Regions from separate parts of the Homo sapiens genome. Here region 2 is linked to region 1. Evidence: fine-mapped expression QTL. Tissue or cell type: whole blood. Region 1 holds a variant in brackets; the other region holds the start of a gene. All regions are shown on one strand. Distances are between the middles of the regions.

Evidence for each region. PIP is the estimated chance that this variant, and not a neighbour inherited with it, causes the effect.
Region 2: CACHD1 starts here. The variant in region 1 is fine-mapped to the expression of CACHD1 in whole blood (TOPMed, PIP above 0.99).

Annotation. Positions count from the first base shown.
Region 1 is chr1:64,506,812-64,523,583 of GRCh38, reverse strand. All of the region lies in intron 1 of CACHD1 (cache domain containing 1), which reads right to left. Among named protein-coding and RNA genes, the nearest start is that of CACHD1, 45 kb to the right of the region's middle. RefSeq lists enhancers at 5,151-5,964, 5,965-6,780. The variant T/C (reference allele first, on the strand shown) is at 8,211.
Region 2 is chr1:64,460,775-64,477,546 of GRCh38, reverse strand. It overlaps CACHD1 (cache domain containing 1), which reads right to left and starts at 7,418. Exons shown (of 27, transcript NM_020925.4): 1 at 6,605-7,418. The coding sequence starts at 6,802. It overlaps LOC107984966 (a long non-coding RNA gene), which reads left to right and starts at 7,522. Exons shown (of 2, transcript XR_001738100.2): 1 at 7,522-8,361; 2 at 9,177-9,274. RefSeq lists enhancers at 3,718-4,503, 4,504-5,289 and a silencer at 7,089-7,208.

The sequences.
Region 1 (16,772 bases):
CAGGGCTCTAGCAAGCCTCAGATGGATCCAGCCTCCTAAAAGTGTTTGTTCCAGGAACTGTTTGTTCACAGGTCTGTCAAAATGCTCCTCCAGACCTAGATAGCACAAGCATCCAAACTCAGAAAGACTCACTTTTATGTAAAGCAAAGCCAGCTCCAAATGGAGATGCCACTCAAATGCCTCAATGCTATATTAAAAACAACCCCCTAGAAAACTTATTTTTTAACTATGGAAAACCTATAAAAGAAGACAAAACAGTATAATAAACCCCCACATACCCATTACCTAGTTTCAGTAATTTCCAACTCATAGTCAATCTTGTTCATCTATATGCTCACTTTCCCCAACCTAGATTATTTCTGAATAAAATGAAAGATACCATATTGTGTCATCTACAATTAGTCTGCATAAAACTCTGAAAGATAAGGACTCTTTGTAAAATAAAAGTAACAATACCATTGTCACACTAATAGCAATTCCAGAATTTCACCAAATACCCAGTCAGGTTCAAATTCTGCTCTACTGGGGAAGATGGAGGCAGCAGTAAACAGAAGGGAAGGCCATCATGGCTACTTATGCTTTTGTTTTAAAACTGTGCCAGCACTTATGACACAGTATGGTCTACTTCCCTGGACTCAAATCATTCCAAACATTACTGAGGATCTTTTCTTTCTCTTGCAGCCAAGATGCAATGTTCTTTCACCTGGAAGGGATACCACACCAGAATAAAATACAGGAAGCCATTTTTCTCACTGGGATTTTCATCATTAGGATTTTCCTAAATTCATGATTAGGAGGAAACTATTAAATGAATCCAAATCTACTAAATTTTGCCTATGCCTCAAGGACTTTTTTTTTAAGTTTCTTTTGAAAAAATTTCAGACTTACAAGTTGCAAAAATAATAAAGTGAGTTTCCCTGTATCCTTCAACCACCTTCCCCCATTGATAACATCTTACATAACAGAACTTTAGGAACTTGCTCCGACCAGGGCTCATGCCTGTAATCCCAACACTTTGGGAGGCTGAAGCGGGCAGGCGGATCACTTGAGGTCAGGAGTTGAAGCCTGGCTAACATGGTAAAATCCCATCTCTACTAAAAATACAAAATTTAGCCGGTCGTGGTTGCATGTGCCTGTAATCCCAGCTACTCGGGAGGCTGAGGCAGGAGAATTGCTTGAACCCAGGAGGCAGAGGTTGCAGTGAGCCGAGATCATGCCACTGCACTCTAGTCTGGGAGACACAGCGAGCTTCATCTCAAAAAAACAAAAAAAAAATGTGGGGGTTGAGAGGAAAAGAAAAGAACTTGTTTCAACCCATACATCTATGGCCATCTATGGTCTTGAAGGGTGCCAAAACCATTCAGTGGGGAAAGAAGAGTCTTCTCAAAAGATAGTGCTGGGACAATTGGATATCCACATGTAAAAGAATAAAGTTGGACCCTTACAACATATGTAAAAATTAACTCAAAATGGATCAAATATCTCAATGTAAGAACTAAATCTATAAAAGTTTTAGAAGAAATCACAGGGACAATCTTCATGGCCTTGGATTTGGCCAATGATTCTTAAACATGGCACAAATAACATGAGAAACAAAGGAAAAATAAACTTTGTCGAAATTAAAAACTTTTGTGCATCAAAGGATGCCATCAAGAAATTAAAAAGATGACCCATAGAATGGGAGAAAATATTTGCAAATCATATATCTGATGAGACTTGTATCTAGACTATATAAAGCATCTTTACAACTCAATAAAAAGATAATTTAAAAATAGGCAAAGAATCTGAATAGACATTTTTCCAGGGAAGATACACAAATGATTAAACTGTTACCATATGAACCAGCAATACCACTCAAAAACATATACCCAAGAGAAATGAAAATGTATATCTATATCAAAACTTCTACACAAACACTTACAGCAGCATTATTCATAATAGCCAAAAGGTGGAAACAATCCAATGTCCATTAGCTGAAGAATAAACAAAATACAGTATATCTATACAATAGAATAGTATTGTCATGAATAAGAATCAAGTAATGATATGTGTCACAGCCTGTAAAAAGCTTGAAGATATTAAACTAAGTGAAAGAAGTCAGTCACAAAAGACCACATATTATATATGTTACATGGCACAGCAACTTTCAGAAAGTTAATTCAGATAATTCAGAGATTATCCAATGGGCCTAAACTAATTACATGAACCTTTTAAAAGCAGAGTTTTCTTTGGCCAGGGCCAGAGGGGATCAAAGACATACTCTAGCTGGCCCACAAGCAAACACCACACATGTTGTGAGCCGTCTATGGTAGCCACAGGGCAAGACACAAAATAGCCTCCATGAGCTTAGTGCAACCCCCAGATGACAGCTAGGAGGGAAACTGAGACCTCTGCCCTACGACAGCAAGGACATGAATCTTATCTACAACCAGTGAGCCTGGAAGAAGACTCCAAGCCCACAAGGGAACTGAAGTACCAGCTGCCATCTTGATTTCAGTCCAGTGAGACCCTGAGCAGAGAACCTAGCCCAGAGTTCTACCCTAAAGAAACTGGGATAGAATAAATTTGTGGTGTTTTAAGCCACTGAGTTTGTGGTAAGTTGTTATGCAGCAATAGGACTAATAGGAAAGCCTTACCTGCAGAGATAAACCTACCTGTAGAGATAAACCTAGGTTTAGATAAAGATTCCCACTGCATGTCTCAGTTTTCTCATCTATGAAATGGAGCCAAGTCTCTATTTCACACAGTTGATTAGAGGGGGAGTAGAGACAATGTACAGAAAGGACTGCACACATGCTACGTGCTCAGTAAATGGTAACTAATATGTTTTCCCACCCAGTGACAAGACATGGTTCCGAGTATGTGGAAGTTAATCAGTGCTTTTTAAGCAAAAGAATCCTTACAAATCATTTCAAAGTCTACTCCTACAGCGTGACATTAGTAACAGTGGTTTCCACAGTGGGGTTCCAAAGGCAATGTTAGGATGCCTAATTAACTTAACAATAATTCAGTATAGGTAATGAGATATTGCATGTGAGTTAATTAGTTTAAACTACAACTCAAATGTGGTTGGCATTATATTCAGGAATGCACTCTAGGGGTAGGCAGGTCGTGTTCTAAGCATGAAGCCCATACTCCAGAAAGACACACTGCAAATATTTCCACCATCCATGTTCATTAACACCAGGCCCTTTGCCAATTAGCAAAGTGAATGTCAGAGGTGGATTTGTGTGGGTGTGTGAGACGAATGGCTTCTTTGCTAGCAATATAAATGTGAGAAATGGGCCATCCCTGGTAAACTTAAACATATATTCAAATTATGAGAATTGGCCAAAATATTCTAGAAATACCTCTACCCTTGTATGAATAAGAGTGTAGCCTTGATAGGCTTGTCCCCTAAGTGGACATGAGTCCGGCACAGTTGGAGGACTTCCAGTTGCTTGATGCTGACTATTAAAGATAACAGAACTCTCCTCTGGAATGTTGTAATGTCTACAAGTACAGCTTTCATGCAAAGTGGTGAGCAGAACAACTAAAAGAAGACAGCTGGGACTTTATCAAGCATAGAGAGTAATGTTGCAGAAATATTTTGTGCCTACTGGCTGATATACGGCTGTTAATCAACGTCTGTATGTGCAGCAGAATGTCTCAGACTTGCACTAGCTATAAGTAGGTGGCAAGGTTGTGGGATAGTAGCAAAACCTCTCACCTCAAATAATCTGGCAGCTATCAAAATTCACCAGAAAAAAGCACCTAGGAGTTGTGTATAACCGAACTGGCTTAGATCAGCTTACAACAGGTGGTAATGACCGAGAGCTGTTTGCAATATTTTATTTTTTAAAAGAAAAAAACTCAAAATGTGCTCGTCATAAGACTAACTAAAACATCAAGTTTTTTGGCTTGAGCCAGGAATTACACCAGCTTAGTAACTCTGGTTAACTCTGGTGAACTAGAACTGCTCAGAGGATCTGATTGATAGTTAATGGGCAGTCACTGGTAATGCTTTTCTTTTTATTTTTTTTGCTGGAAGGAAAAAAGTTAATTCAGACTTACCAGATAGTTTGGTAGGTATTTTTTACATTATTAGAATAAAATCAGTTCCCTATTACTAAGTCAGTCAATCTTTTCACTTTAGAGACAAGGAAACTGAGGCCTGGGACAGATCAATAATTTTTCTATGGTACTCCTTTCAGAAATCAGACCTCCTTATGGTATCTGTTGTGCCTCTCCCTTGCAGCAGTCCTGGGCTGTGCCTCAATCGAAAGGCTCCACTACCTCAACCTGCTGGGTCCAAGCCAGATCATTTAGCATCTGGAATTTTCCCACATTTCCATTGCTGGAGGCAAAAAGTTTATCAGTCAGGCCCAAGAAGCTATTACTGTCTCCCAGAGATTTTTGAGCAAATTCTTCCTTGAAGTCTTTGTTATCAAATGGGTAACAAGGGGTTAATGAGATTAAAAACAAAACCCAGGTCCTGCTAATGAGTAACCCCTCAATTGTAAAGCTTTCACTCAGTTAAATGGTACCTATCTCTAAAATTACCTCAAATAATTAACATAATGAGGAAGGGAAATTCAAGGTATTGTGAGGGACACAAAGATATTGATAGAACCACTAAGGTTGGAAGGCACAAGCTAAGGAGTCACTAAGCCCTTATCTATGGGGTTCTAGAACACAATAGGTTGTAAATAGCCTGACAGAAAGACAAAGGCTCCAACTCCCAGGGAATAAGGCAGCAGGAAAATACCCACACTAGGCATGCTGATGTTATCCAGAAAAGGCTAAACAAGGACTGTCCCATCCTCTTTCCCTTCTCAAGCAATAACTTCACCAGAAAAGTGATTCCCATCATTTGGAGTCACAAAACTAGCCATCTATATACCTTACTTTCTTCCTATCCCATGAGGCACAAAGAAACTCCAGCTTAGACATGGCACAATCACACAACTACTTTGACAGAGCTGGGCATGGACCTTGATCCTCTGACTCCACCAATCCATGTGATTCTGTGTTAAATTTTGCATCTTAGACCTGCTTCCATTTTCTCTACCATTCCCTGATATTGCCATATTCCTGTACATGCACTAAAAAAACAGATTTCCAATTAACTTGATTGAGAATAATAGGACATAAATGAGATAATGGAAGACCATCTTGAATGTTGAAAGCCAGGGCTTAAAATCTAGATGATGGGTTGATAGGTGCAGCAAACCACCATGGCACATGTATACCTATGTAATGAACCTGTACATTCTGCACATGTATCCCGGAACTTAAAGTGAAAAAAAAAAAAGTCATTGATTTTCACTGGAGAAGTAGCACAGAAATGTTTTCCATCCCCATGTGTGCTGAGAGTATGTCCGCTGCTATTATCTTAGAGGAAAGAAGTTAAGCACAGGTCATGAGCTGACAAATTACTACACTTAAGCTCTTCCCCCTGCTCCATAATGGATCCCTCTCACCGTAAGGAGATACAAACATTTAGAAAACACTAAACCAAACCAACACCTCCCAGGATCCTCTACAAAGGTTTCCTGGTTCAGTAAGGGAAGCCTGGAAGAGATCAAGTCATGTTCAAAGAGGATCACAAGCTGTGCTACCACAGGATTCTACTTTCTTTCCCTCTTAAGATCTAATCATTTCCTTTGTTTCCCAAGGAATACAACCATTACAGCCACAGGACTGCCAAGTTCAATCAATGACATAGAGTAGGCAGGGCAGCTACCCTGGGGTGGTGGAATATACTTTTCAAGTGTAAAAGGTTAAGCTAATAGGAGAAAGAAGAGTAATCGGGTAAAGGTGCTACACTGTCCAGGTCCCTCCTCCTGAGGAGAAGCTCATGGTGATAATGATCACAATTTTAATCTAAAGTCAATCACGTCATTCCTCAGCTCAAGATTCCCCACAGGTTCCCCTTACCCTTACAATGGCCTTTAAAGCCCTAGTGATGCTCTTACTGTCTTCCTGCCCCATCAGCCTCCTTGCTCTTCATCCCACTGGGCCAAGCTCTGCCCAGAGAATCCACATGGCATACTCCTTTGTCTCCCCTTGAGTTCTTGCTCAATTATCATTTTCTCAATGAGGCCTCCAGTGACTACTTTATTTCATTGCAACCCCACAGCTCCCTGCCAACTCTCCCCTGTCCCACACTCACTTAATTCTCCTTTATTTCTTTTTTATTGAATAGTACTAGCCATTCTCCAACATATGATATCATTTATTTCCCAGTATTCATGATGTCTATTGTCTAGCTCTCCCCAATGGAATGCAATTGGAATGTAACCTCCATGCAGAAATGGATTTTTGTCTGTTTTGATCACTGATGAATTAGTAGAACTAAAAGCACATAGTATACACTGAAAAAATATTTGCAGATCACTTCTTGGCCTTTTGGCTAGGATCAAATGTAATGAATAATATTTGTTGAATAAACGAGATGTCACTTATTCACTAACAATAACAGCAGCTAGCATTCAGTACCTACTATGTCTCACACATATAACAAGTGCTTTCCCCGCTTCATGTCATCACAAGCCCATGAAATAGGTACTAACAGCATCCCCAATTTACATGACAAAACTGAGGCTTAAATGACTTGCACAAGATCACATTGCTAGTAAGTGGAGAAGTCAGAATGAAAACCCAAGTCTGTCTGACTCCAGTTAATTGCAATGCTGAATTTCCCACTCCAGCTCTGCTAGACAAGTTTTGCAATTTTGTTTACTAGGAGGAACAGTTTAAAATACAAGAAAGAATTGCTCCAGCAAATTCAGAGACAAGTCTCCAGAAAAAAATTTCCCTAGAAATGTTTCTATATTATAGAATATGCTTTATGGTATAGTAGAAAGAACAATAATAAGAAGATAAAAACCTGGGTTCAGATTCAGACTCTTCCCCCTAACCAGCTCTGAGGTCAATGTGTGAGTAATAAGCTAAACCAAGAGATAATGATGCCTATCGTGCAAGACTGTTTTAAGGATTAAATGAGATAATATTCATGAAAATGCATAATCGAGTCTGGCTCATCATTTGGTCATTCCTTTTTTCCAACGTGACAGCCTCACTGACAGAATCTCATAAATGAGTAAACATTTACTAAGTACCTAGCGTGTGCCAGGCATTATGCCGGGTGTTTTGTTTATGAACACCGTAAGCTGGTCTGTTAGGCAGTACGACAGGTTCCAAGTCTAGAGATGAGGCAGATCAGCAAAACAGCTGTTCTAGAACCACATGAGAAATGCTACTGCAAGTTATGTACTGAACATCATAGGATGCAATGCTAACATTAAATGCTGAAATTGCTTGCTTTGGCTAAAATGAGAATGGAGAGATAGCGATAATTGATTGCAGAATCACCAGGAGAAAAAAGAAAATGTTAAACGGACAGGTATATTTAGAATTAGGACTGCATTGCTGAAGAAGAACCCATGTTACTTTGTCCTTAACTTAAAACTAATTTGAAAATGTTGCATGTTGGTCTAGTTTATGTGCTACTTATCAAGAAAAAGACTACTTGAATATACAAATATTTTTTTCAGATATTTGCAACCTATATATGAAAATCCTATTAACAATCTCTTCTACCACTTCCTTTCCAAACTATGAAACATGCCCTGAATTCCAAAAAATGAAAGTATCTGATAATCTCAAGTTTTATACATGCTTCAAGTTTAGGAAGTAGAGCTAGGCAAAAGAAGGAGTCAAGTCAATGCCCTTCCCAATTTTTAAAATTAATACCAAGAGTTGAAACCATGAATCCCAGCCACCTTTCTATAATCGTAGAAAGATTAGCATGTTAGTTTAATTTCTGCACACCACTTCAGACCACCTGCATCCCCAAATAGTGTCAGATAACAGGCCTTTCTTCATACATTAATTTTACATTACCCTCTCTCCCAGGCAGCTAGGGAGCTAACAAGCAGTCCCTGTGGCTCAATCTGAACAGAACTGGCATGCATTCAGGCAGCACAACTACAGCTGTTGCATAATAGCATTTCTCATGTGAGGAAGCCATATCAACACAAATACTAATAGTCAAAATGATTTAAGAAGGGAAAAAATGCTTTGAGATACTTTGAATTTGCAAGGATAGGAATTCATTTTCATTATTAATTGCATATGCTTATATTCTAAAGAACCTGAACAAATGTCACACCAATCATACTGGAAACATCTGAGTTGAGGAGGCTCTTAGGGTAATTTAAATTCAG[T/C]CTCTTGCACAAAGTAGTAGGGTTTGTATTATTTCTTGTCTGTTTTTGTCATAACCTGAACATAACTTCCATAGCTCCCCAATTGTGTTTTCCAAAGGACACTCCAAAGCAATTATTTTTTGTAAGTATCTGGTTCAATTAAAATTAGTAGAAATTGTTAAATAGTTAGTATTAATGGGGATTCGGGATTTGCTGGAAGGAAAATCTAAGAATTAATACCATTTGGATTAATCTAGATCCAAAATTTTCACTTTTCTATGCCATAAGCATATACATTTATTTCTCTGTATTTTCCTCCTAAATAATCCAATACTGTATGCAGTATGACCAAAATCACATGGATGGCAGCATACCAATGAAGAGATTTAGAGATTACACATAGTCAAGATGTCTCCATTATGACCAAGGGGGCAAATATGAGCTCCGGAACCTAGGAACCAGTCAACTTTGCTTCTTTCTCAGCATATTATAGAATAGGTTATTTAATTGTAATTACTAAAAACAAATTTGGATTCTGTAAGAACAAATCAGGCCAAATTATGCCACTTAATTTAATATACAGGTAGAAATTATAAGAATTAATACATATCTTATTTTCACCAAGGCATTTGACAAAGTACTGCATGTTCCATTCTTGAGAACAAGAAGGCACACTGAGTTAGACTGTCAGACTTGGAACTTTGACACCATCATAAAAAGCTAAACTACTGCTGGAGACTAAAAAGAATATAAATAGGAGTTATCACATAGCTTTGCTGCTGTGGTAAATACCAATGATCCTATGGTCAACTATGCATCTAGCTCAGCTGCCTACAACTGCATTCCTCCCCCACTGCCCAGTTCAGTTTTTCAAAACCTAGAAGTGAAACCTAGGAATTCCTTTGTTACAATGTTAAAGCTAGAAGACTTTTATATCGAGCTACAAAAAAGAAAACTCACAGTCAAGCTGGCAAGAGTCCTTTTTAACTAGATAGCCATATGGACACCTCTTGAAAAGAGCCATATGGTTAGACTTGTTATTTTTGGCCTCTTTAACTCCCTTCTTGTATATAGAGGCCTCCAGTTATTACCAACAAGTGATAAATCACTCTGAATTTCCAAGGCCACAAAAAGCATTCACTGGCAATCATTCCAGGTTTCACTTTTAGCTGAAGACCCTGGAGAATTCTTAACTGGGGGATGTTCACAGTTTCCAAAACGTTATTTTACTTAGAGCAACACTTCAGATCTAAACTTTATCTTGATAGCTAAGGTTCAAACAGAGAAAGTAAAACACGGATGGAAATGAATTGTATAAAGTATGAAGGAACATACCAATTTAACTTTTCCTCCAATTGTTTTTTAAGAGACAGGATGAGAGAAGTGTCCCTCCTAAAAAGATTATCTGGAACAGAAACCGCAAACTGGCAACCTAATTTAACCTGCATAGGTGTTTTGTTTGACTCACACATGTTGTTGTTTTAAATTGAGCTAATGTTTAAAATTCAGGAAATTTTACATCTTATAAAAATCTGGATTTCCAACATCTTTAGAAAAACTAGCAGATCTGGCATCCCCAGACTAACATTCCTGCTGCCAACAAGTGGCTTCCATTGAACAGCAACTGTTTCTTTTAGGTGGCTCCTACCATCTCCAGCTGTGTCACAGGCATTCAAGGCCTACTTTACTCATTTCCATTTTCTGACTGCCAGCCCATTAAAAAACTAGAAAGTAAGCACTCTTTCCTTTGAGTCCTTTTCATGGCTACCATTCCTGGCAAGATGCAACTCAAATGTCAAATGCCTTGTGTTTGAAATATCTCCTGAATCTTACAGATTTATCAAATTCTACCTGTATCACTTCCACCCACCATAGCTGCTGGGAAGCAAGGATGCCCTTATACATGATTACTTCCTCCTTTTCTCCATGGCATTCGCACAGTGCTTTACATAAAGCAGATATTTAATAAAATATCTAGTAGTTATCTTATAGCTCTATGGCTTACAGCAGCCTTTCAACATAAAACAGTGTTTCACCTTAGAACAGTATTTCTCAATTGGGGAAGATTTAGCCCCCCAGGGGACACTTGACATTTTTGATTGTCACAGCTTGGAGGAAGTTACTGCTGGTGTCTAATGGGTAGAGGCCAGAGAGGTTGTTAAACATCCTAAAATGCACAGGACAGCCCCCTCCCCTGCCATCGTCACATGTCATTTGTGTTAAGGTTGGGAAAACCTGACTTAGAATGACCCAGATGAACACAGAAATATTGCTGTAAATTTGCAGATGGATAATCTTGGGCTAGAAATTAATGTGGTTTACTCAAGGTAACCCAGCTTGCAACAGAATAAAGATTTGGACTCTGGTGGCAGGCTGTCAGAATGTGACAATAGAAATGGAGAATGGAAAAACAGAACAAGGATGGAAATTTGTGCCTCTGTTTGGCATGAACTTGTGTGAAAATATCCAGAGGTCAGAGATTAACATCCACTAATATAAAGTATATCTTACCTGATAATGAAAGAGTCCAGAAGTCACTTAAATGGTGGCAGAAAAAACTTAACCACATATCAAACTTACATGCATATACTGAAAAACCAAGTTCTACCCCGCCAAAAGATTTTTTGTATCAGCTATTCAAAACAACTACATGAAGTTACAACTAATCCATGTGCTGATGAGCAGAGAATACAAATGACTGAAATAACAGTTTCAAATGAAAATTCCTCTTTAGGAGAAAGAAAAGAGGAAGGTACAGCAACTTGAAGAGTGGAAATGTTGAATTTAGCCCGAAATTGGCAGGGGTGTGTGTGTCTGTCCCTAGCCACACCTGCAGACTGTTATTTTGTCTTAGTTACTCCAGTTGGCCTGCAGTAGCCTCTCTCCATTCAAAGTAAAGGAGGAACAGCAGGAAGTGTTAAAAGGGGAAGAGCAGAAGTTGAATCATTTGCCCTTGAACTCCAGAGGGCTTCTGCTTTTTTTTTTTTTTTTTTTTTTTTTTGAGACACAGTCTCACTGTGTCACCGAGGCTGGAGTGCAGTGGTGCAATCTCAGCTCACTGCAACCTCTGCCTCCTGGGTTCAAGCCATTCTTGTGACTCAGCCTCCCAAGTAGCTGGAATTACAGGTGTGCACCACCATGACCAGCTAATTTTTCTATTTTTTGTAGAGACAGGGTTTCACCATGTTGGCTAGGCTAGTATCAAACTCCTGACCTCAGGTGATCCACCCGCCTTGGCCTTCCAAAGTGCTGGGATTACGGGCTTGAGCCACCATGCCCAGCCCTGCTTGCTTTTTCTGTGACCATCAGGCAGGTGCCTCAGTTTCTAAGATCTAGAAAGTGTGAATAATAATTTCTACCTCATAGAGTTATGGAAAATAATAACAATCAGTAACTTTATATATAAAACCTTATTAAAAAGTCTTACTATACATGCCAGTGACTATGCCAAATGCTTTATCTCATCTGACTCTCAAATCAACACTGTGAGATGGCCACCATGTTCAGATGAGAAAAGGACACAGCTGATAAGCTGAGAAAGCCCATTTCAAGTTCAAAGGAAGGCAACTGTAGTTCAAAGGAAGGCAATTGTATTCTAGAGCTGGGGTTCATAACCACTTTGCTGTCTAGCTTTCCCAACTCAAAGTGCTAATTATTGCTTTGTAAACTTGGAGCCAAAGGAAATCCTGGGGTTCATAGGGAATAATTTCCTCGTGGCCAGAGCTAAATACAGATGGAACAGATTGTCTTCTGCAGTAAGACACTCCCCATCATTGTAGCGGGAAGCGGCTGGGTGACCACTTGGAGATGTTGGAGAGAGAGATGAGCTGGAGAGGGTGGTGAGCTCTACTTCTCTAAGGTCCATTCTAATCTTGCAATTTTATGATTCTTTGTCTGAACTCTAGATTTCTAATAACCTCTCTCTGGAACCTGATGGTTGTTTATTTTCCTAGGCAATTCCTACTCCTTTCTCTGGTCTTTCTTCCACTTCTTTATTTTCTCATGATCCTAGCATGCTATAATGGAAAGAACCAGGGATTTGAAATATAAAAGCCCTGGATGTGAATGTTCAATCACCCTTATAACAGTTAATTGATACTTGACAAGGTACTAAGACTTCCTCTCGTGAGGATTTCCTCATCTATAAAATAAGAGGAAGTAACATCAAATAAGGAAAAAAACAGATTAAAGTACAGTGCCTGCTCTACAGCAGAAGTACGATTAGTCTCCTTCATTTGCAAACCTACTACATACCGTACTCCATCTGCTTTAATGTCCTATACCTGTAGAGATCTTAGGTACACTAAAAATAAGCACAGTCCAAAATATCTATGATCTAAAAGGCGTTTTACCTGCCACATAGATATCAGCAAAAGGAAAATGGATTCTCCACTACAAGGACCAGAACCATTACCAAATCCAGTGGCCTTTGACACTCTAAATTCCAATGTACCCACAGCCATATTAATCCCATAGATATTCCCCTCATTACAACCTCCAGGAATAACAATTATACATGCATTGAACTTTCAAGGACCCACAGCACTCCAATATGCAACATCTTATTTAAATCATACCACAATCTTGCAAGAGATTTACAGGAGCACTTGGCATTGTCTGCATGTATCTGAATCTTTGTCCCAGTGACCCAATCTCTCTGGCAATTTCTGGTTTTGGCAATTTAAAAATTGTGCAAAACTGAATAATGACCACCAGAACAACAAAATAAAAGACAGAAATGAACTTAATCAGAAAAAAGAAAGAGTTATTAGAAAGACACTAGAAACACAACAAGAGGCAGAAACTTAGTGGTTAGGTAGTTGAGAACATTGCCCAGGAGATTAAGCTACCTAAACAACCTTGCTGAAAGGCGACTGTGAATACCTGGCTGTTCCGTCGTCACTGGACCCTCTTTTTTTCTCCATAACCTTAAAATTATTGACTGTCCCATTTCTATTGCTGCCTAATGCTCAAAGTCCCAGGTAACAGTCCTTAATGGCCTAGTGTATGTAACACACATACTGCCCCAGCTGCCACGGCAGGAGAGAGGATCACTTGCCTTCCCCTGTAGCTCCCATTGGCTCCTAGAGCTGAAAGGGTGCAAAGATGCAAGTCAGCTGAAACAGCAATAAATGTCCAAAACTTCACTGAATCTTCATCTTAATGCTGTTGGAGCAACTCTACTTTACCTCCGCATCCCTTTTTTGTGACAAGAGAAGATACTGATTTGCTCAGGTTCACGCAGCTGGTCACGTACCAGCACTGAGAATTCACCTGAGGCTCCTGGCTCTTGACTCCCATTAAAATTTTCCTTAAAAAGCAGTTTTAACTAGCACTCTAAGTCATCCTAAATGTAGGTTTTATATGAATGTTGTAATATCTCTTCACTATTCTATCATAAATGTGAAATGTATGTATGTGGGGCATGTTCTATCTGGGTTGCCAGTTTTTCAGCATTTAAAAAATATGTTTTTCTGAAAGGTATTATTTCTTCCAAATCCTAAACTGAAAAATCTTAACAGTAATCGTGCAAGACAAAATACATCTAGGAGTATTCGTTTGAGAATCATTGTCTCTGCTATGTCTTAAATAAATCTCTCCTATTGTTAATAAACTGAGAAGGGATGCAAATGTCACAATATTAAAATAGGTATCTAGATTAGGTTTTGAAAAAATATCATAAAATCTACTTCACAGTCTTAATTTTGCATTTATATATAATGTTGTAGTGTTTTCCTTCTATCCTTGGAGATTTAACAAAACTTCCCTACTTTAAAAAGCACCCTAGGGCTGATTTCATGGTCAAAGAAAAATAAAGACTTATAAAATTACTGAATAACTTGAGTGTTTTACCCTGAGATCCTTTTCCTTCCTACCATTTTTTTAAGCCAAGAAAGACAAATGAACTAAAGCTGTTCATCTTTAGTTGATTCAAATACACCTTTTTAATAACAAGTGGCTGAAGCCAAAGAAAGGATTAAAGATGGTGCTCTTTCATCAATTCCTTATTATGGCCTGGGATTTACTTTGCAATTAGTCCCTCCTGGGCAGAGCTGAGGCCCAGTGAACTTGTTATTAACAAGTCTGGAGATCTCTAAAAAATGAAAACTCCACACTTGCTACAAGGGGCGGGTAACACAGGCATGAAAGATGCCAAGGTAGAGGGAGTTATAGAGCCTTTTGCTAATGACAGTTCAAAGAGATGAGCAGCCCCAACCCTCACAAATAAAAGCAGAGAGCATTTTTCATCCATACTCATAGTTAGGAACAAGCTAACAGAGAAAAAAAGAGAGTATGAACTTCATTAAATTTTCAGTCCTGTGGCCCTATTGCTTTTTCTCTTATAATTAGCAATAAAAGCCTTAAAAGGAAAAAAAGACCTTTTTCCTTTGTGCTTGCCATCTGGGCAGCAAAGATGAGGGGAGTAGCAGCCAATCATAGAAAGAGAAGAACCCTGGGGGTGGGGAATGGCAGGAGACACCAAAGAAAAGAAAATGCCTGGGAGCCCTGGGCCTTTTTCAAGGATAAAAAGATGAACTAGGGAGGCAACTTATCCAGACTGCAGAAGTTGTCTTGGGCTTAAGAGTAATAAACAGCCTGCGGCAGTAAGCCAGTGTCAGACCTGGTAGTGTCTTAACAGAAGACTGAGTATGGTTCTCTAAATGCACTACGTCTCTATCTTACTTAGCCCTCTCACTCTCAGGCTTAGTGAGAGAACAACTTAGGGACTTGAGAGGAATATATCTAAATAAGGGCAGCAGGTGTTTAATGTCAATCACTGAAACAAGTTTTCCAGGACAGACCCAACTCATATGTGCTTTGCCTGGCAGGTCCATTTCATTTAAGGTAGGCATGATTATCCCCATTTTACGCATGCGGAAATTGAGGTTTAGACAGATAAATTTGCTAATCCAAGGTCACACACACAAAAAAGATCATATGCTCTCATAGCCCCTGCTAAATCCAGTGCTATTTCTTCCACCAGAAGCTCTCACCCACCTTCACACCAGCATTTGTGTAGTGCGTTACACTTAATACAAGAATACCTCTCCAGGCATTCTCATGTAATTCCTATAAAAACACATCAAGAAGGTGATATGGTTTGGATTTGTGTCCCTGCCCAAATCTCATGCAGAACTGTAAACCCCAATGTTGGAAGACGGAGGGGCCTGGTGGGAAGTGATTGGATCATGTGGGTGGATTTCCCCCTTGCTCTTCTCATGATAATGACTGAGTTCTCACAAAATCTGGTTGTTTCAAAGTGTGTAGCACCTCCCCCTTCTCTCTCTTGTCCTCCTGCTCTGGCCATGTGAAGATTTGCCTGCTTTGCCCCCTCACCTTCCACCACGGTTTTAAGTTTCCTGAGGCCTCCTCAGCCACGTTTTCTGTACAGCCTATGAAACCCTGAGCCAATTAAACCACTTTTCTTTATAAATTCCCCAGTCTCAGATATTTCTTTACAGCAGTGTGAGAATGGACTAATACAGAAGGAGATGAGACACATTCATTTTTCTACTTTAAGATTTAAAGATGAGGACATGGAGGCCCCAACTTTAAATGATTTGCCCAGGCAACATACTGGTGGTTTGAACTCAAGTCTTCTGACTCCTAAAGGTGTATTTTTTCCACTAAATATAACATTTTTGACAAATCAAAAAGAAGCTATTTTCTGTCTGAGCTGAATTTCCATTCTCACTCTCAGCTCCTGAAAACTTATTCTTACTTCTTCCTGGCTCGTGTTCCTAATACAACCTGAGTTTCCACATTCTCTATCTCCTGGGCTGTCTGCGGATTCCTACTCCAGTTCTCCCATTTTCCTGCCCCTGCTTCTTCCCTGGAGGCTTTAGAGCCCATGCTCCACCTCTACCTATGCAAGATGTTCTTTTTACACCCCAGAAAGTAAAATAACAACAACATCAACACAAGTAAAAAACATCACCTTTCATCTCAACATTAACCAGGCAGCCCACTAGTTCAACTCAATTGGCATATGCTGTGGTCTCAACTGTGGCCTCCAACTCAAGGACAAAGCAAAGATGGGTAGGGCAGTCCCTGGCCCCAAGGAATGTATAACATAGTGGGGCAGGCAGATTGGATACAACCAACTATAAGGCAAGACTCCAGTAAGGAGTACAACAGAGGCACGAAAGTAGGGTAAAAGGAACCCTTTCTAGCTGGGAGAAATGAGGAGAGGTTCCGGGGAGGTAGCTGTGATCCTAAAGTCAGTCTCCTGGTCCTATCCTAACACATCAAGAACAACCTTCAAAGCATGATGTGTGAAACACATACTAATTTACGAGTCATGAACTTCCAAGGCCTTTTTCCTTGGGACCTCAAAATATTCACATCTCACAAGAGATGGTAGAGTTTATCATTAATCTCGTTTTACAGATAAGTTGAAATCCCTACCTAACAACAGTCACAAAAACAACTGAAAAGCAAATTCAGCTCCTATCTACCAAAGGTTTTCAATCACTTTACAACTATAGGTTCCTAACTGTTCCAAAAAACATGCTCTAATGGGGGAGCTACTTGAACGAAGAACAGGCAATTTGATGTATTACACAGAAAAACGCAAGTGAA
Region 2 (16,772 bases), 46 kb after region 1:
AACCAGCCTGACCATCAATTAATAACTGTCTAAGCTGGGTGAGAGGTATGTGGATATTCATATGCTATTTTATTTACTTTTGTATATGTTTTTAAATCTTTGTAGTTTAAAACTAAAGAAATAACTATGACTAGCCAGGTCTAGCATTTTCTTCAGAAAGCCCCAAGCATGGCTTTGCACCACATCCAAAGGTCCGTGAACCATATCTTAAAAACCTGGGGGCAGAGGATTGACCATATTGAAATCTGCAGGTCTACAAATTAGATTTCAGTTTCATTCAGGCTTAGGAGCTACATGTTTACCACCTTCCCGGTTCTGTGCCCTGGCACTAAATGAACTGCTCTCATATTTACATTTCTGTTTATTGACTGCTCCTACCTTAGGCCCTGAGCTAGACACTTGGTTATCCTTTAAAATATATTTACTCCCATTAGCTACATGAAATACAAAGACACTAAAGTTCAGAGTGATTTAATAACATGACAGAAGTTACACAGTTAATAACTAACTGGCTGAGTCAAAATTCTTGTCCCTGTTGTCCCTTCATATTTTGACTTTCAATAAATTCTTACTCCAAGGTCCAAGCATATCTAAAATAAATCCCACTCCATCTAATACCAAAATTCCAGAGTTCTGCAAGGTTCCTGCCTGCTCATCCACTTAAGCTCAAGGAAGGAACTCCTCAAGCAGCAACCAGAAATAGCAGCAACATGTTACTAAGTGTAAAACCATCTCCTCTCCCTCCCCCAAGCCCTTCCAGACTCAAGTACTATTGGCAGGAAAAACATAATAAGCACAAGGAATAAGGCCAGCAAAGATAGGCATTAGTGAGAAGGAAGTCCAGGAAGTGCTAAGCACAACAGAGACAGTTTATCAGAAGTCATTCAACATGCTTTTTCTTGGGCTCATTCCTGACAAGTTCAACTCAGAGTCATCCGTCAATGGACAGTTTTCTTCTATTCTAAATATCCATTTTCAAAAGAAAGCAACACAGCAGTTTTTCCACTAAGGCTTATATGGTACACAAGGCGTAGAATCAAATCACATTATTTGCATATACAGGTGATTTTTCCTTCGAAAATATTCTATATTGCGTAATTACACATTCAAATCATTCTAAACCAGCCCTGTCCTGTTATGATGCATGTGATTTAGAGGAAATTACACATCTTACCAAACATGACTGCAAATCAGCTTGCAGTTATAATAGAGCCAGCAAGATATTTATGTCCAATAACCACAGAAGCTCTAGGATAATGGCCAAAGAAATGAGACATGGGAGCCATATGAAGGGGCACAGGAGTCAGAGTCCTGTTCAGGTGTTCAAGATACACGAGCTACCTTGTCCAGTGCCACCAAAGGAATCAGAAACATCTAATGAACTACTGATTTGGCTACCCTTCATGTGTGAAGCTGCTGCTGCTGCTGCTGCTGCTGCTGCTTCCTTCAGGACTGGCCTGTGTGTGTGGACATTTCACTGAAAAGGACAATGGAGAAGTAGCTAACTTCCTTGACTTCACCAGAGGGGCTTGGGCAAGGCTCCTCTATGCTCCCATAATATCCTGTTTCTCTCTCTACCACTGCACTAACCTACTGCAGTGTAATGCCTCTATGTCTCTCGCTAACCACCTGTATCATAATGCCTCTTTTTGTGTCTATTTCCATCATTAGTTGACAGATTAAGGGCATGGACTAGGCTTTAGTCACCTGTGATTGCCAGTTTAATCTAACCCCACTTTGGGAGGCCGAGGCGGGTGGATCACGAGGTCAGGAAATCGAGACCATCCTGGCTAACATGGTGAAACCCCGTCTCTACTAAAAATACAAAAAAAATTAGCCGGGTGTCGTGGCAGGCGTCTGTAGACCCAGCTACTCAGGAGGCTGAGGCAGGAGAATGGCGTGAACCCGGTAGGCAGAGGTTGCAGTGAGCAGAGATCACGCCACTGCACTCCAGCCTGGGTGACTGAGCAAGACTCCATCTCAAAATATAAAAAATAAATAAATAAAATCTAACCCAAGACCCTTCATAGAGCAGAAGCTCCCCAAAATTTTGTTGGATATATGCGAAAATGAATAATGCAGGACAGGCACAGTAGCTCACATCTGTAATTCCAGAACTTTGGGAAGCCAAGGTGGGAGGATCACTTGAGGCCAGGAGTTCAAGACCAGCCTGGCCAACAGAGTGAGACTCCATCCCTACAAAAAATTACAAAATTAGCAGGGTGTGATGGTATGTGTGTGTAGTCTCAGCTACTCAAGAGGACTGCTTGAGCCCAGGAGTTTGAGGTTACAGTGAACTATGATCACATCACTGCACTCCAGCCTAGGTGACAGAGCAAAGATCCTGTCTCTTAAGAAAAAAAAAAAAAAAAAAAGGAAGGAATTTAGTGCATTGTTGTTTTACTGCATACAAAGAAGCGTTGCTCTTTAATTCCAGCTGTAGTCAGTATTTACAACATTGCTTTATATCTTTGACACTTCTGCCCCAGCTGAGTCCTTCAGTTCCTGAACATGCCTCTGTTCTAGCTGCTGCTTTTTCTTCAATTGGAGTTGAAGCTCCAGTTCTTGCTTCTGGTATTTCTTCTGCCCTGACTGGAAGAAACCCTGCTCCTCCCTCCCTCCCAGGCCTCATCCAGCAGCTGTCTGACCAACCTGCTGGTCTGTCTGCCAAGTTCATAGTAAGTGTGCCCAGCCCAGCAGAGTTGGGCTAACTTTAAGGCAGGCACACTGGCCTTGTGCCAGGCCCTTGCTGTTAGGAAGCCTGTACTGTCCTATAATGTTAAATGGGCCTTATAAGTGCCTGGCGAAATGGCTCCCAGAGCCAGATATGCCTTCTAACAAGCAGGCATTGTTACTTAGCTGGTTTACCTGTGCAATCTTATCTCCTCCTCGAGAATGTAAACTCCTTAAGGAGTTGTGCTGGAATACGTCCTTGTAAAATCCCCTGAATACCCAGCATAGAGCTCCATGCTCAGTAAGCTTCCAATAATCATTTCTCCATTTGAGAACAACCACATCCATCAATATTTCTCAGCCCTGGCTTAACATTAACAGATGCCTTTACATGCACTATTTCCTTTAAGTCCACAGAGCAAATCTTGAGGAAGAATCACCATCCTCAATTTTACAGATAAAATCACCCAACTTGCAAATGGCAGAGCTGGAATCCAGGTCTCTACCTACCCAATGTGGGGCTCTTTCCACTCCACGATGCTGCTTGATAAAAACTTGTTGCATGAATAAATAGGCAAAAACCCGTCTCCCTGGACACAGCCACTTACTGCTCCCAGACCTCAATGCCACCATGGCTCCTCTGCACCAGACCCATGAGGAGATGATGATTAGGTTTTTGACTTTTATCCATGATGTATGATGTCTGCTGTCAGGGGAACAGTATTCAGTGACAGCTTTCCCAGAGTACTGGCAAAATTGGTTGGCACAACTTATTTAAAGATTTTTTAAAATATATTTTGTCCATTATTAAAAAGGAACAACAAAAATCATGAGTAGGCAGCCCCCACTGGAGAATTTTCCAAGAAAATCTTCAAGGTAGACGCTTTTCAAACTGTCTTCTCTATCAGCAAGTGCGAAAACTACGTCATGGGAAACTATAGTGCTAAAAGAAGCCTAGGTTTTTGTTTTTGTAAAATTACCCCCTTGCAACTCCTTATAAGCAGTAAGTGCTGCCACTTGAAATGCTGCAAAACAACAGGCCTGGTTTGAGGGCTACTTTATAATTTCTCAAACTTTAAAATCGTCTTTCGAGAATTTCAGCAGCAGAAGCAATATAAAAGTCTGAACATTGGCTTTTTACATATAAAGAGGCCTATAGAATGTTTCTCATAAAGTGAGATGGTGTCCTGAAAGGCCTGTACTATGCTCAAAATGCCAAGGTCAAATGAAAGGAGTCAATCCCTTAAGCAAGGGAAGACATTCTTTTCCAAAGAGACACAACTATCCCCCTCTCCACCCCCACCCTGACCATCTTCGTAGGAAGTCACACCTTAAAGCCTATGTGAGGCTTACCTCTGAAAAACAGATTAGCTCCACCTCTATAAAATCCATCATGCTGCAGGGAGGGCTATATAACCTACACTTTAGGTAACTAAACCCACATAATTTCAGACCCACTGAACAAATCCCAAAGGTTTACAGATGAGAATGTGGGGCTCAAAATCTTTGTTCTAAGGCCAAAAATCTAACCTGCATTCGACTTTTTTTTTTCCGACCAGTCTAACTAAATTAAAAAGAGACACTTTCTGCAATTTTCCCAGTTAGAAGCAAGTGGCAGATCAATGTACAGCTCAAGAAGCAGAATTTAAATACAGTATGTGTGTCTCCTTTCAAAAAAGGAGAGAAGCCACTTCACATTTTGCCAGACAAAACCCTGTCCACAGGAGGTCCGTTTCCACAATGAGGTTGCAAAGGTGTTAGAAAGAGGCCAGTTGGGAGGAGATAAAGGACCATTTGGGCACAAACCCCCCACCGATCAGAGCTTTTTTTCGAAGTGTCTTTTTCAACAGGGCAGCCTTTTAAAACTACATTTGCTTAGGATCCCTACCTGAATGACAATGTGTTGGGATCCAATTTCACCTTTTGTCAAGGACTGGGTGAGAAACAGTAAAATGGCTGTCAGCATCTTAGAAAAAGCAAGTCCTTAGCTTACAAGGAAAAGGCGTGGGGGGGCGGGATAGGGGGGAATCCTAAGATTTCTTGTCCAGCCCTAGGGATGGAGTGAAGGTGGCAAGTGCCTACAAATCCTACAAGCAGAGTCCACAACTCCAATATATTAAGTTTCCTTTATTAAAAGAGGTGCCTCAATGCAAAAATACAATTGTGCTCTGAATGGAAATATTCACCACTGTTTTTTTAATCCTAGTTTTCTATCTTTTCTAAAAGTCACTTCACTCCTAAGAACTCAGCAATAATCAGAAATCAGAAAATGCATATGGAAAAAATTGCAACTGAATCTGAACCTGAAAGATCGGCATAGTTGAATGATGCATCTTAAAAGCTTATCTATTATTATGCAAATCAAGAAAACCCAACTCCATTGCACTTCAGGGCTGGGTGTCTGCAAATAAATGCAAAATTACCTTTCAAAATCCATCCACTCCTCAGTCCTCATGTCACCCTTTAAAAAATTCCGGTGGTCTTTCCCCACAGTAGAGAAGGTCTGTGGAACTTTCCTCAAGAAAATTGTAACCTCTTGGGAGGAGATTGGTGTGGGGAAGTGGAAAGAAGAGGAAGGAAGAAGGAAAAAGAAAAGAAAGAGGAGGAGAAGAACGAGAAGGAGGAGGAGGAGGAAGAAGAAGGAAGAAAGAAGAGAAGGAGAAGACGAGGAGGACGACGCGACGAAGAAGAAAGAAGTAAGAAACCTAAATCCCAAAAGTGACTTAAACACCTCTCCCGGTGGGAGGTGGAAGGAGTGGTCACAGTAGGATGGAAATCAGAAACCTATTCCAAGAACGCATTCTTGGAAACTTCAATCTTTCGAAGACCACATTCATCCCCATGATTGTTAGAATGTGTAAGAGAATGGTGTTATTTTATCTAAGAATGTTATAGCAAAGGTTTCAAGCTGGGAATGTCATCTCAACCTCTCCTAATCTAGTGGGCCTTTATGGCCAAGTGGATTAAAATAACAGCGGGGCAGAATCTCCAGGTGGTTGGTGTTCAGCAATTTTTACTACTGTTGGTCGTGAGTAACATCATCAGGATTCCTTACTAGCTGCGGGCAGTTTTTCTGTCAGCCCTCCTTCCTCTCCCGAGGAGGACGGACATGATAAACAATCTGGAGAAATGGGAACCTTATTCACTTTGCTCCCTTTTTCTTCGACCCAAAAAGGCACACACGAAACAAAAATCATACAGCAGACAGCACGCAAACTACAGCAGGATATGCGGAAAGCAACAAAAAGAGTCCCCCAGCAGGATTAGAGTCGGGAGTCTACCCAGAATCTACCAGGCCAGCCCCTCCCCCCATGCTCCCGGGAGGGGAAAGGAGCGCGGAGCCCACTCGGAGGGCCGCTCTCCGCCGGGACCTAGGTGTCCCCGGGGCAGCTGCGTACTCTGCGGCGCCTTCCCTCCCGGCGCCCATTGGTGCGCCTCGGTAGGGAGGACGCGAGGACGCGAGGACGCGGTCAAGGGGGTGGGGTGGGGACTTCGGAAAATCGTCCGAGCCAGACGGGGCTGGCTGCTCTGGGATGGGGACACAAAGGGGGAGTTTGCAGGCGTGGCAGGGTGAAAACAAGCCTACATGGGAAATGTGTGCAAATTAGAGAAGACGTGCGAGGAAACTGGAGAATCCTTGACGAGATGAAGGCGCTGGTACTCAGAAGAGGGGGGCTGTGCAGGGTCAAGTGGGTTCCGTGCAGAGGGCAGGGGATTCTCCAGAGAAGGGCAGGGGTAGACGAATGCATGGAAGAAGAGTTGGTGTATTGTCAGGGGGTCTGTGCAGAGGACAGAGGGGTCCGACGGGAAGCCGGGCTCTATGTATGCAAGGAGCCGATGCACACAGTCCAGGGGACTTGTACCGGGAGTGGGATGGGAGTTTGAGCAAAGGAGAAAGGCGGGATGTCTGGCCAGCTCGGGGGCCACTTACCTGCATGGTGACGACCCCCAGCTCCTCGGCCGCCAGCCTCCGCATCTGGCTCGCCAGCACTTGCGCCTCGTCCAGGATGGAGAAGTCGGCTTCGGCCCCGGCGCCCAGGAGCCAGCACGCGACCAGGCAGAGCAGCCAGAGGGGCGGCCGCCGCGCCCGGGCCACGGCCGTCTCCTCTTCCTCCGGCTGGCGGGCCATGCTGCCTCCCCCCACTCCCCGCCGACGGGCTCCGGGCGCGGGGAAGCGGGCCGCGGGAGGTGCCCCCCGCAAAAGCGCGGCGCACCCCGCAAAAGTTTCTTCCTCTGTTGCAGGCTCTGCTCCGCGCCGCGGTGGCGAAGGCTCCCAAACTTAGGGGGCGCCCGGCTACAGCGCGGGAGCGCGGGCGGCCACCATCGCGGGGCTCCGCGGCGGTGGGGGTAGGAGGCGGCCGCCCGAGCGGTCCCCGGAGCCCGGCGCCCACACGGGCCCCGCGGCGCAGAGGGCGTCTCCGAGAGCAGGGGCGCCCGCAGGCCGGGGTGCGCGGGCCCCGGGGCTGACAGTCGGAATCGGAGTCGGAGTCGGAGCCCGAGCCGAGCCGCGCGGCTCTCGCTTCCTGCGAGTCCCAGCGCAGCGAGCAGGCGGCGGCGAGGACTGACGGCGGCCCCCGGGGAAGAGGAGCGGCGGCCGGGCTGCGAGACTGGGGCAGCCACCCGAGCGAGGAGGGAAAGGGGAGGCTTCACAAACCCACACAACTGAAAGAAAGAAAGCAAGCGGTGGGGAAAGGGAGGCGTCTGGTGCCACCACGCTGCGCTCCGGCTCTGTGCACTTCCCGGCTGGGCCGCCGCGGCGGCTGCGGTGATTTATGGAACCAGCAAGAGAGGCGGGGAAATTCCCCCGGTTGCCCCTCCTCTCTCTCCCTGGCTCCCGCCTCAGAACCTGCCCCCCGGGACGCCGGGGGCCGGGGGACCAGCCTCTCTCTCTGCTCGGGGACCGGCCCAGCCCGGGCAGGGGAGCCCACGGACCTTCCCGTGGCTGGAGACGGAGACCCCCGCCAGCGCTCCCCGCCTCCGTCCGCGCCAGGGAGCCCACCCGGCCCAGGTTCCAGCCATCGAAAAGTCCTTTAAGTTCTAGGACGCTGGCTGTCTGCCTGGCAGCGGTTGGGGAAGAAGGGGACTGCCATGTGTAGGTCCACTCCCTCTCCTTGATGTTATTCATCACAATGGCTAGCTAGCGTTCCACCCACAGATTTCTGTTGCAACCAGCCACCGTGTGCCCGGCACTGGGCTCGGGGGTGTGCACATTATCCTTTAATCTCCGCGACATGCCATAGGAGGTACGTATCTTTATCCCAATTTTTTAGGTAACAAAGACTGAGGCTTAGAGAGGTGGAATAAATTGCCAGAGGTCACCCAGGGGATAAGAAACAAATCCAGAGTTTAAGCACAAGTCTTACTCCAAGGCTATTGCTCCTAAATACGATACAGTTCTCTCTGTCTCTCTTTGGAAATGAACCATCTGATCCCATCAAAAGCAAGAAAAAAGAAAAAGAACGACTGAACCGGAGTCCACCGCGCACACACCTGTTCTCCCAAGCATGGAGAGGCAAGGTTAACCTTCCTGTTTGTCCCTGACTACTGGCTCAGGCTCGCTGAGAAATCACCTGTTGGAAGCACCTGGAACAAGTCAACCTGCTGTGTGTGGAGAACAGCCACTCTCCCTTCCAAGCCCTGTGTGGTTGCTGCTTGCAGGTTCCTGGAGAACAGAGCCAACACTGGAAGGTTAAAGGACTAGTCCAGGGTTACCTAGCAGAGGTGGTAGCAGGATTAGAACCTGGATTTAGGACTCTTTTCATTTTACAGCAAAACCTTCTGTTTTACATCTTTGACTATATTGTATTAAAAAGTCATCTTCTCTTGTAAGCTCTCCCTGGCCCATTTTTACCTCATTGAGATCACTTCTCCATTCTCAACTCCCCTGCTAATTTTTGTATTTTTAGTAGAGACAGGGTTTCGCCATGTTGGCCAGGCTGGTTTCAAACTCCTGACCTCAGGTGATCCACCTGCCTCGGCCTCCCAAAGTGCTGAGATTACAGGCATGAGCCACTGCGCCTAGCCTGTGATGTTTGTTTTACATACTAAGGCAAGCATGTTGAGTGTGGGGACCAATCCCTTCACCTCCACATCATCCACACAAGCACATAGTAGTACTGGAAAAATGATTCTTGAGTTAATAATGAGGTAAAAACCTACCTGTATGTCTTCTATTCCTGGAGTTGAGCTGACATTTGTTAGAAAGATGATCCTTTAACTTCCGTTTTTTAAATTGTTGTACCTTTGACATGACACTCCGCAAGAGAAAGCATATTAGTCCATGTGATTAGTGGAAGAGTAAAGAACAAAAATAATAATGACATATAGCATTATTTTTTTATTTGATTCTTCAAGGTTACCATCACCAAGGTGTCACACATCTCTAAACTCCTTCTGAAATGCCTTCACAATAGGCATTTATTGCCCATCTTTTATATGTTGGTATTTCTTGAGGTCCTATTTCTTGGGATGCTAATCCAATGTCACCTTTTTTTCACTCTAAGGTTCTTCTTTTTGAGGACTCTCGACCACATCTATGCCTTCAATTATTACCAAACACGAGTTTATCATACTTCTAAATAAAGCTCAACCTGGATCTCCATTTTTTCTAGCAAGTTCCTGACTTCTCTAGTAGATATACCTGAATGAAAACTCATTACTGCTTTCCCCCATGTTCCACCTAAATCCATGTCTGGCTGCAAATCTAGGTGGATGTCACCCACTCTGCAAGCTAGGTACGCACTCTCCATCCACCCCAGCTCCCAACATATCTCCCGTGTCCATCCCCCGCTGTCCATCTGCATCCTATGGCCTGACTTCAGTTCCTCATTGCAGCTTGCCTGTATTATGACCAGTCTCCTCATGGGTCTCTGTGCAGTCTCTCTGTTCCCCCTCATTCTGTTCTTCACATGGAAGTCAAAATCAACTTTCTAAAAGTCAAATCTCAACTTGTCATTCACTAATCTAAACATTTCTGATGCCCCATCACAGATAAGTAAACTTAACAAACAAGGCCCTTTGTGCTCTGACCCTGTTTGCTCTTCTGGCCTTTTTGTAGCCACTGTGCCCCTCAGTTGCCTCACCACTCCCAGAAAACACCTATATGGCAGCCTCAAAATTCTTCCCCTTCTCTCCACTTGCTAGGTCCCCTATTCAGCTGAGGTGTCATTTCTGTGACACCTACCCCCACAGAGTTTACGGCTCCTCTTTGGTGCTCCAAAGCTCTTGGTTCTTCTCTCAGCACTTAATGTCCCCTCAGCGCTTAACAAGCAACATTGTGATTTTCCACTTGAAAGCTTTGATTTCTCCACCTTGTTTCTCAAAGTGTGATCCACCAAACACACTAGCCTCAGGACACTTAATAAACTGCAAATCCTGTGCTCTATTCCAGGTCTACTAAAGCAGAATCTTTGGAGGTGGGGGGTGGGTCCTGGAATATGCATTTTATAGACCCCCCTTCCCCGCCCTGACATTAGTCTTATGAACTAATGCTAGACTGCAAGCAAGCTTGCCAGGATGGTAACTCATGCATCCTGGAGCTCTATTTAGCCCAGTGTCTATAGCTAGGAGGGTCTCAGTACCCGGAAAGGAACTTATGGCTATTCCTATGTTGCCAATAGAGAAAAGCCTCAAAGAAATAAAGTTATTTGCCCAAGGTAATACAACTTTTAGATGGTGGTGTCAGTATACAAACCTGGGCCTTCAAACACCAAAGCAAAAGCTCTGAGCTACTAGTCTGACGTCAGAGAGAACATTTACCCACATGTGTACTGGTACATGATAGACCAATAAAAGCTTATTGTGTGATATACTGCCAATCCTTAATGTTCCTCATCCATATAAGTGAAATTGTCCTACCCATCAATCTCTGCTCAGTACTAGTTGATTCTTTCCCAGGGGGGGTCAACTGATGGGACCAGGATAGATATGTGACATCAAGGCAACCAATCTACAGCACCTAAGGCATGGCAGAAATATTAACTGGGACAAGACTTCATTCTAAAAAATTTTAGTTAGGAAATACTGAGGAAAAAGCAGTTAGAAGTAGTAGTTAAAACTATAAGGATATGAGAGGGGGCCATAGGAACCATGAATCTCATAATGTATATAGCAGAAAATATATAGGCATATATATACACACATATATACATACACACACAAACACACAAATATATACACAGATGTATATACATGGCTATATATTCCCTGATATGCACACACATATATGTATGTATACACCTCTGTATACATATATATGTACACAGATATAGATATAGAATAAATATAGCTATTAGATGGCTGTATATAAATACATATACATATATATGCGTGTGTGTATATATACAAATACATATACATATATATGCATGTGTGTATATGTATACGTGTATATATGTATATATACATATGTGTATATATGTGTATATATACATATGTGTATATATACACATATATACATGTGTATGTATATACATACACATATATACACGTGTATGTATGTGTATGTATATACATACACATATATACATGTGCATGTGTATATACACATGTATACATGTGCATGTGTATATACACGTGTATACATGTGCATGTGTATATACACGTGTATACATGTGCATGTGTATATACACGTGTATACATGTGCATGTGTATATATACACGTGTATACATGTGTATGTGTATATATACACGTGTATACATGTGTATGTATACATATATACACACACACACACATAGTCATATAGCAAAGCTGAGAGTGTGAATCTTGGACAAAATCTGGGTTTGGATCCCAAGGACAATACTTCTTAGCTGTCGTCTCTGTAAAACTTAACTTCTCTTAGCCTCAGTTGCTTCATCCGTACAATGTAAATAATGCGACCTAAAGTTTTTGTGAAAAGGCACATAAAACACTTTGCAAAGGACCTGGTACATTGACACACTCATTAAGTAGCAGTGTGACTCTGCAAGCTGAAGCTGTGAAGGAGCAGACCCCATGAATGAGCTAAGAAAGCCAATCACAGACAGGGGAGAGTGGAGTACATAGAACCTATGGCCTGTAACAGAGACTGTCACCAAGAGCCAGAACTGACTTGATTTCAGAACTTTCTCATTCCAAATCCAGTCTATATGTTCTATTAATAATAGACCCTTTTCTTCTGTCTTTTGTCTTGATGTAACTCTATAGATAAGTTCAATCATCCATTCTATACAGAGAGGACACTATTGACTGTGCAGTTGTTTGAACTACAAAATAATGAAAAGACTGGTAAGTGGGTCACAACTGTCCCTAGAAGACCACAGATCACCATGAAACTTGTCTGATGATTTTATATTCTCCACAGAGTAATCCTCTACCCCTTGCTTATGACTGAGTTGGACACTTGTTCATTATCTGCTTCCTTTCCAGAAGCTCCAGCAATTAATATTGCAATTGTCCATTTGCAAGTCTGTTTTCTCCATCTCAATGTTTCTCATGGTGTGTTCTATTAACCACCTACAGAGGAATGACCTATCAGGAACTATGTCTGTTTTATTCACTGCCACAGAGTCTAGCATAGTTCTAGACCCAGAGTAGAAATCCAAGAATTGTTGAACCAAATAATTGGGGGAAAAATTAGAAAAATCCATGAATCAATAACTCTCATGCAAGGAGCTACAGTAACAATTTTGCTCCTTGACTGCTAAAGAATAACCAAGAGTCCTCATCAAACTGGCTGCTCTTCCATATTTTGGGAATTATAAAGCTACTTCAGTGATAGGCCGCCTCATGGTACCCATTGTCCAAGATCTTCATCACAGAAAAACTATATATGAAATTGTTTTGAGGAACTCTTGGCCAGAATTCCAGAAATGTGGTATGGAGTTCCCAAGCTACCGTGATTCCCTTTACATGCTCTGAGGTGGACATAAGACCCAAGTTAGCAACAAATTCTCAGCCTAATGCTACAGGCAGGTCTCCTATTCAAAACAATAACTGGGCCGGGCACAGTAGTTTAAGTTTGTAATCCCAGCACTTTGGGAGGCTGAGGCGGGCGGATCACTTGAGGTCAGGAGTTCAAGACCAGCTTGGCCATCATGGTGAAACTCTGTCTCTACTAAAAGTACAAAAATTATCTGGGCGTGGTGGTGCACCTATAATCCCAGCTACTCGGGAGGCTGAGGCAGGAGAATCGCTTGAACCTGGGGGGTAGAGGTTGCAGTGAGCCAAGATCATGCCACTGCACTCCAGCCTGGGTGACAGAGTGAGACTCCGTATCAAAAAAAAATAAAAAATAAATAAATAAAACAATAACCAGCTGCAAACTATATCGAACCTGTGAACTCAGGGAGCTCAGGAGAATGGAACTGGTAATTCCTAGGGCAGAAATTAACACTCACTTGTTAATTTCTAGCAGACTACAAATCTCAGCCAGTGCCAACTTACGATTTTTTTTTTTTTAATTTTTAAGTTAAAAAAATCTTTTTTTGAGGCATGGTCTCCTTCTGTCACCCAGGCTGGAGTGCAGTGGTGCAATCCTGGCTCACTGCAGCCTCAAACTCCCTGGCTCAAATGATCCTCCCACTTCAGCTTCCCAAAATGCTGGGATCACAGGCATGAGCTGCCATGCCCAGCGACTTGTTGTTAAATAAATGGAAATGGTTAATGGTCTAGACTGAATCTTAGAACACAGACTCTCTCTGTTTTTCACATTCTTCTGCTGATTTAAGAAATCATCAGGTTTCCCATTTCCCTTCAAACTGGGAGACAGTAAAGGTTGAATAACCATGAGAGGTACAAGTTACTAAAACCCTTCTATGGTTAGGTGCTGTATATGACACACAGCATATCATTTCTTTCTTTCTTTCTTTTTTCTTCATTGAGATGGAGTCTCACTCTGTGAGCCAGGCTGGAGTGCAATGGCAGGATCTTGGCTCACTGCAACCACTGCTTCCCAGGTTCAAGAGATTCTCCTGCCTCAGTCTCCTGAATAGCTGGGACTACAGGTGCCTGCCACCATGCCCATATAATATTTTTAGTAGAGACAGGGTTTCACCATGTTGGCCAGGCTGTTCTCGAACTCCTGACTTCAGGTGATCCACCTGCCTCGGCCTTCCAAAGTGTTGGGATTACAGGAGTGAGCCACCATGCCCGGACTCATTTCTTAATCTCTTAGTATGTTTCCTATATTCTATCATTTAAGCATCAAAATAGGGAAGACAAGATCATTGCAATATTATACACAGGGAAAAGGAGGCTCAGAAAGGTAAAGTAACTTGACCAAGGTTACAGGCTAGTAACAGCAGAGGTGGGATGGAAACCCAGGTCTGTTTGACTCCCAGCTCAATTATTTTGCAACTCTATCATGTGCCTCTCTCTGAATGAGAAAAAAGAAAAGAAATTATATTATTTGGCACCCCATGAATCGCTGCCCAAGAAACATCCTTATTTCCAAAGCAGCAATTATTTTTTCCTGTTAATTTCAACAAACATTTATTGAGCATTTGCTATATGCCAATGATTTTGCTGGGTGCTAGGGATATAAAGATGAATATGATTGGCTGTCCTTAAGAACTTTACAGGTATCAGAAAGGACAGAGAATCAAGACAGAGAATATTACGTCCAACAAGTGCCTTACGGCCTTTCCTGTTGCTGTTCCGTCTTGAACGCTCTTCCTTCAAATATCTGCTTTCACTCTTAGGAACTGTGAAAGGTTATGCCATTTGCAAGCCAACAAGTCAACCCACCACAGCCTCATGATGCTGGCAGAAGATATGAGACTCCTGAATTAGAGACAAAGGGCTTTATTGCTCAGAACGATAGCAGTAGCCAGAGTGTCAGCGTTTGTGCCAGTCCTCCAAGACCCAGTTTCCACAGGGCAATATGAAGAGAGCCAGGTGACACCTGCATACAACAGGTAGTATTGAAAGAGAGAAACCCCAAGCTTAGATAGCCCAAATCTTTTATGATGAAATGCAAACAAAACTGCCCTTTGCCCCAGAAATATATATGTTTAATATATTGAACAGAAAGCAAATTTTCCCTTTGCTCTAAAGAAAGACACTATCTCTACCTGCCCAGGCTGTTCAGTAAGCAGAAGTCTTTGAAAATATAGTCCAGAACAAAAGAGTGGTTAACATCTTGCTCACAAGGCATGCAAAAATGCAAGAAACCCATAGAGAATTGTGGCACTCACTCACTGGCTAGGGAGGCAAGACATAGAAATATACAAAGTGAATTAGCAATAAGAGATTTAAACCACCTATTGAGGCTGCAATACAAGAGATGGAACAAAACAAATAAAGCAGGCAGGCCAGGTGTGGAGGCTCATGCTTGTAATCCCAGCACTTTGGAAGTCCGAGGCAGGAGGATCCCTGGAGCCCAGGAGTTCGAGACCAGCCTGGGCAACATAGTGAGACCTTATCTCTACAAAAAATAAGCAGAATTAGCCAGGTGTGGTAGTGCATGCCTGTAGTCCCAGTTATTCTGGAGGCTGGGGTGAGAGTATTGCTTGGGTCTAGGAGGTTGAGGCTACAGTGAGCTGAGATTGTACTACTACACTCCAGCTGAGTGACAGAGCAAGACACTGTCTCAAAAAACAAAACAAAACAAAACACAGACAACAATGATTATATATGGAAATAATATTAATAATTATCTATTAATACTAGCTATTTATATTAATATTATAAGGAAGAGTTTCAAGACATAGGGAACAGCAAGTGGAAAGGCCATGAGGCACTTGTAGATAGATAGCTATTAATATTAATAGATAACTATTAATATTAGCTAACACTTTCTGAGTGCTTACTAGGTTCTAGGCATGATGCTGTATTTTGTGTGTGTGTGTGTGTGTGTGCTGAAACATTTTTAATTATTTCATTACAGTAAATATTTAGAAAAGCATATTATGTATTTCTCTTTGAAAATGTCTAAAACAATACATAAGTTCAAGGAAATTAGAAATAGCTAATTACATGGTGAATATTTATTAGCTAATTATTTACACCCCACTTAATTTTGTTAAAAACTAATTTGAGGTGGCAAAACATTTTTTTAATTTATTTTTTATTTTTTTTAATTTTATTATTATTATACTTTAAGTTTTAGGGTACATGTGCACAATGTGCAGGTTAGTTACATATGTATACATGTGTCATGCTGGTGTGCTGCACCCATTAACTCATCATTTAGCATTAGGTATATCTCCTAATGCTATCCCTCCCCCCTCTGCCAATGCCACAACAGTCCCCAGAGTGTGATGTTCCCCTTCCTGTGTCCATGTGTTCTCATTGTTCAATTCCCACCTATGAGTGAGAATATGTGGTGTTTGGTTTTTTGTTCTTGCGATAGTTTACTGAGAATGATGATTTCCAATTTCATCCATGTCCCTACAAAGGACATGAACTCATCATTTTTTATGGCTGCATAGTACTCCATGGTATATATGTGCCACATTTTCTTAATCCAATCTATCATTGTTGGACATTTGGGTTGGTTCCAAGTCTTTGCTATTGTGACTAGTGCCGCAATAAACATACGTGTGCATGTGTCTTTATAGCAGCATGATTTATAGTCCTTTGGGTGATGCTGTATGTTTTAAATGAAATGATCTCATTCAATCCTTAAAACTCTATGAGTCATAATAATAATAGTTAACATTTATTGTGCTTTCACTAGGTCCCAGGCACTACACTAAGTGTTTTAAATGAATTATTTTATTTTATTCTTGCAGAGAACATATTAAGTAGATATAATCATCCCCACTTTATAGACCAGGAAACTGAGGTTTCACAAGATTGAGTTTTTTACCCAAGGTTTCAGAAGTAATATGTGTTAGTGTTATTATTTAAGTCCAGGCTATCATTCTTAATTAAGTGCTATCCTGACTCATAATAACAGCTTAGGTATTATGATCAAATCCATTTTGCAAAGGTGGAAACTATTGTTCAGAAAAATTGGGCTATCTAAACATTTCTGTATGAAAGCCAAAATAGAGGAACTTAACCACAAAATGTTCTGAAGGATCAGAAGCACTAATGGTATAAATGCTATAGTTTATCAATGTCATCCAACTGACTTGACCTTGAATTAGTACATAAATATCTTAGCGGTTAATGG